2 separate regions of the Homo sapiens genome follow, and region 2 is linked to region 1. The links come from fine-mapping of genetic effects on gene expression. Tissue or cell type: whole blood. Region 1 holds a variant in brackets; the other region holds the start of a gene. All regions are shown on one strand. Distances are between the middles of the regions.

What was found. PIP is the estimated chance that this variant, and not a neighbour inherited with it, causes the effect.
Region 2: it holds the start of CERS3, and the variant in region 1 is fine-mapped to the expression of CERS3 in whole blood (TOPMed, PIP above 0.99).

What each region holds. Positions count from the first base shown.
Region 1 is chr15:100,575,225-100,578,045 of GRCh38, reverse strand. All of the region lies in intron 3 of LINS1 (lines homolog 1), which reads left to right. Among named protein-coding and RNA genes, the nearest start is that of LINS1, 26 kb to the left of the region's middle. The variant G/A (reference allele first, on the strand shown) is at 1,288.
Region 2 is chr15:100,527,966-100,530,690 of GRCh38, reverse strand. CERS3 (ceramide synthase 3) reads left to right here and starts at 1,741. Exons shown (of 12, transcript NM_001378789.1): 1 at 1,741-1,878.

The DNA of each region.
Region 1 (2,821 bases):
TATAAGTCTTTAATCCATCTTGAATTAATTTTTGTATAAGGTATAAGGAAGAGATCCAGTTTCAGCTTTCTACATATGGCTAGCCAGTTTTCCCAGCACCATTTGTTAAATAGGGAATCCTTTCCCCATTTCTTGTTTTTGTCAGGGTTGTCAAAGATCAGATGGTTGTAGATGTGTGGCATTATTTCTGAGGGCTCTGTTCTGTTCCATTGGTCTGTATCTCTGTTTTGGTACGAGTACCATGTTGTTTTGGTTACTGTAGCCTTGTAGTATAGTTGGAAGTCAGGTAGCGTGATGCCTCCAGCTTTGTTCTTTTGGCTTAGGATTGACTTGGCAATGCAGGCTCTTTTTTGGTTCCATATGAACTTTAAAGTAGTTTTTTCCAATTCTGTGAAGAAAGCCATTGGTAGCTTGATGGGGATGGCATTGAATCTATAAACTACCTTGGGCAGTATGGCCATTTTCACAATATTGATTCTTCCTATCCATGAGCATGGAATGTTCTTCCATTTGTTTGTGTCCTCTTTTACTTCGTTGAGCAGTGGTTTGTAGTTCTCCTTGAAGAGGTCCTTCACATCCCTTGTAAGTTGGATTCCTAGGTATTTTATTCTCTTTGAAGCAATTGTGAATGGGAGTTCACTCATGATTTGGCTGTTTGTCTGTTATTGGTGTATAAGAATGCTTGTGATTTTTGCACATTGATTTTGTATCCTGAGACTTTGCTGAAGGTGCTTATCAGCTTAAGGAGATTTTGGGCTGAGACGATGGGGTTTTCTAGATATACAATCATGTCATCTGCAAACAGGGACAATTTGACTTCCTCTTTTCCTAGTTGAATACCCTTTGTTTCTTTCTCCTGCCTAATTGCCCTGGCCAGAATTTCCAACACTCTGTTGAATAGGAGTGGTGAAAGAGGGCATCCCTGTCTTGTGCCAGTTTTCAAAGGGAATGCTTCCAGTTTTTGCCCATTCAGTATGATATTGGCTGTGGGTTTGTCATAAATAGCTCTTATTATTTTTAGATACGTCCCATCAGTACCTAATTTATTGAGAGTTTTTTAGCATGAAGGGTTGTTGAATTTTGTCAAAGGCCTTTTCTGCATCTATTGAGATAATCATGTGGTTTTTGTCTTTGGTTCTGTTTATATGATGGATTACATTTACTGATTTGCATATGTTGAACCAGCCTTGCGTCCCAGGGATGAAGCCCACTTGATCATGGTGGATAAGCTTTTTGATGTGCTGCCGGATTTGGTTTTGCCAGTATTTTACTGAGGATTTTCTCATC[G/A]ATGTTCATCAGGGATATTGGTCTAAAATTCTCTTTTTTTGTTGTGTCTCTGCCAGGCTTTGGTATCAGGATGATGCTGTCCTCATAAAATGAGTTAGGGAGGATTCCCTCTTTTTCTGTTGATTGGAATAGTTTCAGAAGGAATGGTACCAGCTCTTCCTTGTACGTCTGGTAGAATTCGGCTGTGAATCCATCTGGTCCTGGGCTTTTTTTGGTTGGTAAGCTATTATTATTGCCTCAATTTAAGAGCCTATTATTGGTCTATTAAGAGATTCAGCTTCTTCCTGGTTTAGTCTTGGGAGGGTGTATGTGTCCAGGAATTTATCCATTTCTTCTAGATTTTCTACTTTATTTGCATAGAGGTATTTATAGTATTCTCTGATGGTAGTTTGTATTTCTATGGAATCAGTGGTGATACTCCCTTTATCATTTTTTATTGCGTCTATTTGATTCTTCTCTCTTTTCTTCTTTATTAGTCTTGCTAACGGTTTATCAATTTTGTTGGTCTTTTCAAAAAACCAGCTCCTGGATTCATTGATTTTTTGAAGGGTTTTTTGTGTCTCTATCTCCTTCAGTTCTGCTCTGATCTTAGTTATTTCTTGCCTTCTGCTAGCTTTTGAATGTGTTTGCTCTTGCTTCTCTAGTTCTTTTAATTGTGATGTTAGGGTGTCAATTTTAGATCTTTCCTGCTTTCTCTTGTGGGCATTTAGTGCTGTAAATTTCCCTCTACGTACTGCTTTAAATGTGTCCCAGAGATTCTGGTATGTTGTGTCTTTGTTCTTGTTGGTTTCAAAGAACATCTTTATTTCTGCCTTCATTTCATTATGTACCCAGTAGTCATTCAGGAGCAGGTTGTTCAGTTTCCATGTAGTTGAATGGTTTTGAGTGAGTTTCTTAATCCTGAGTTCTAGTTTGATTGCACTGTGGTCTGAGAGACAGTTTGTTGTGATTTCTGTTCTTTTACATTTGCTGAGGAGTGCTTTACTTCCAACTATGTGGTCAATTTTGGAATAGGTGTGGTGTGGTGCTGAGAAGAATGTATATTCTGTTGATTTGGGTTGGAGAGTTCTGTAGATGTCTATTAGGTCTGCTTGGTGCAGAGCTGAATTCAATTCCTGGATATCCTTGTTAACTTTCTGTCTCGTTGTTCTGTCTAATGTTGACAGTGGGGTGTTAAAGTCTCCCATTATTATTGTGTGGGAGTCTAAGTCTCTTTGTAGGTCTCTAAGGAGTTGCTTTATGAATCTGGGTGCTCTTGTATTGGGTGCATATATATTTAGGATAGTTAGCTCTTCTTGTTGAATTGATCCCTGTACCATTATGTAATGGTCTTCTTTGTCTCTTTTGATGTTTGTTGGTTTAAAGTCTGTTTTATCAGAGACTAGGATTGCAACCCCTGCCTTTTTTTGTTTTCCATTTGCTTGGTAGATCTTCCTCCATCCCTTTATTTTATTTCTGTGGCATATTCGATTTTTTTACTTAAATAATATTAGGATACTTCTGTTCCTTCTCGGTGTGCCACATATTATCATAC
Region 2 (2,725 bases), 47 kb after region 1:
GATCACTATTTTGGGTACTAATTGTTTGACCAGTATTGAACAGCTGAGCTCCAGGGGTAGAAAGAGATCTAAGGCTTGTCCAGTGAGGATTCCCAAAGTAGTGGGGAAGCAGATACAAAAATCAGTTAAGTTGTGATAGAGTAGTAGGTGTTGCAATAAAGGTATACCCACAGAACAGAGAGGGCCGAGGCTAGGGAAGCTTGAGCAGGATTCAGACTTTCATTAGGCACAGAGGCGAGAGAGCAGCTCATGGCAAGGGCCCAGAAGCTGCCCACTGTTGTGTCTGGAATCTAGTGGGAAAGGGCAAAAGGAAGTCCTGGAGCAGCAGGTTGCGAGCAGGCCATTGTGCCAAGGAGTCTGGTCTTGATCCTATAGGTAGAAGGTGGCTGGTAGAGTTTAATCAGCAGAAGAAAAAGAAATGAGAATGGGAATGTGAGTTAGGTGACAATTGGATGAAGATGGAAGCCTCATGTCAGGAAACCAATTCTGCAGTGGTCTCCTGGCAGAAGGTGAGGCAGACCTGAACTGAGCCTACCTCGGTTAGTGGCCAAGTCTGCTTTAAATTCATCCCTTCTGCCAGATGGTTTTAAAAATGCATGAGCCCATTACTGAAAAACAGAACGTCTTCGAAGAGAAAGGCAGACCGGGAAGCCCTGAGTGAGAAGTACCCAGTGAAAGGAAGGGCGTTTATCAATCCTCTCTCTTTGAACTAAATTCATTAGTGAAATCTGAGAAACTTTGGAGCTTTAATGAATTTGAAACTGGTGTTTCCCTTTATCTGCATCTAGTCCATTTTTAATTTGCGGTCATCTATTAGCTGATGAAAAAAGAAAAATGTCTTTCAGCAGTTGAAGACAGCTAATGAGAATCAGGCTCTCAGTGTGGGCGGTACTGCTGATGTTTGGTTTGTGAGAGATACAGGAATCAACTTGTTGAAGCTCTCTACTTGTCAGAGCACCTTTAAATAATCCAAGCCCAGAGTTGTTTCATCTTCAGGCAAGAGAAAGTGAAAATGGCTTCAAAGGTACAATATCTCAAATAAACACTATAAAATGCATCCACACTTGCCTTTGAAATTGTAGTGGTTCAAGCACACAGAGACAAGCAACAATGTTTATTTCCTGATACTAATGAGCTTGTCTGTCTTTGTCTATGATGATTGTTCTTAGAGACAAACAAATAAAAATGCGAATTATATCTGACTGTTCTAAGAAGAAAAGATTGCCAGACTATTGTATTTTTTGGCAGTTATATGCTTCAAAAAACTGATCGTTTTCTCAATTCCTAGGAAGCGGGCAGAGAAATCACATTCCTGTGGACCAATGCTCCTTAGTGGATGAGTTTTGTGGCATGGTGGTGATTTAGTTAGTAAGAAGCCCTGCCTGTTTTCTGGAGAGTACTATACTTGTCGAACCAGCTCCTAGGACAGTACAGGGTTGTGACTGGTGTTTTGGGGTTCTCTCTGCGCATAAGCCCTTTCCTTTTAATACAAACAGCAAGATCATCCTGTTCAGCAGTTGACAGATGACTGTGTGCACCAAAAGGCAACAACGATGAGGCAACTGATGCATTTGTAACTCAATGTCTCACTGAATTCCAGCTTTCTTTTCTCAAGGTGGTGAAACAGGAAGCAACATCCCATCAGGAAGAACCTGAGGGTGCCATCCAGTAGCTTCGCCTCACGTCACTGACTGCCCTCAGTCAGAAATCTTGACTCGCAACTTTGGAGGGTGGGTCTCTGAAGGAATTTCAGGTCTTACACAGAGATGAGTTGTGCTGCTCTCTGAGGAGAACGAAGCTGGTTGGAACGTTGGAAGCTGCTCTCTGACTACACTTCACAAGCAAGGGGCACCTTTTGTGGACTGACATTTCAGAAAGGTAGGCGCCATCCCATGGATGTGGTTAGTATTTGAGGACTTTCAAAACCAAGGTGGCCGTGATTCCGCGTGTGAGCTTGTGTGTGTATGTGTGCCTGGGTGCGTAACAGAGAGGGAGAGGAGATGGAGATTGGGGGAGAGGCGGACAAATGAAGAAATGTTCATTTTTGGTCTGATGTTTGGGAGAAATACAGAAAAGACAGACTTGGGGCCCTTTGCTTTGTAGAGTTTTGCTTGGAAGTGTTTAGTAGTAGAGGGTAAATTTCGAGTCCAAACTTCCACTCCTGACCTGCATTGCTCTCGGGCGAGTTTAAACTGATTCATTGAGGGTTAGGAAGAAAGGTCTGGGCAGTGAAATCACACACGGCTGAATGCTCAGCATAGCTTGGTTTATCAGGAAAGCCCTGAATCCAGGTGGAATGAAAGGGGTCAGCACAGATCTTTGCCAGGTGGCAAAGGCCATTTCAGACCATCCCAGAGTGCCTTAAGCTGAGAACAAGGTGGGACTTGCTCACCCCACAGTGGCAGGCCTTCCTAAGCTGCTTCTGTCTTGAGAGATGTAGTGCTCAATGTCATGCCAGGAGAAATTAGCTGTTCGGTTCTAAGGCTGCCAGTCTCATGCAGAAAAGTGAAACAAAATCAAACTACTTTTTCTGATCCAAGCAAATGTTTAGCAAGAATGTTCTGTTAAGCATTTTTATTTTTTTGAAACCTTTACACAAAACAAGGGAAATAAAGCTTTAGGGCTGACCAGATAATGAATTTTAATTTATTCATTAACCCACAATGTTCAAGTGCCTTCTCTACCTTAAGTGAGTGTTTGACTTTAAACTTCACATTTTCATTGC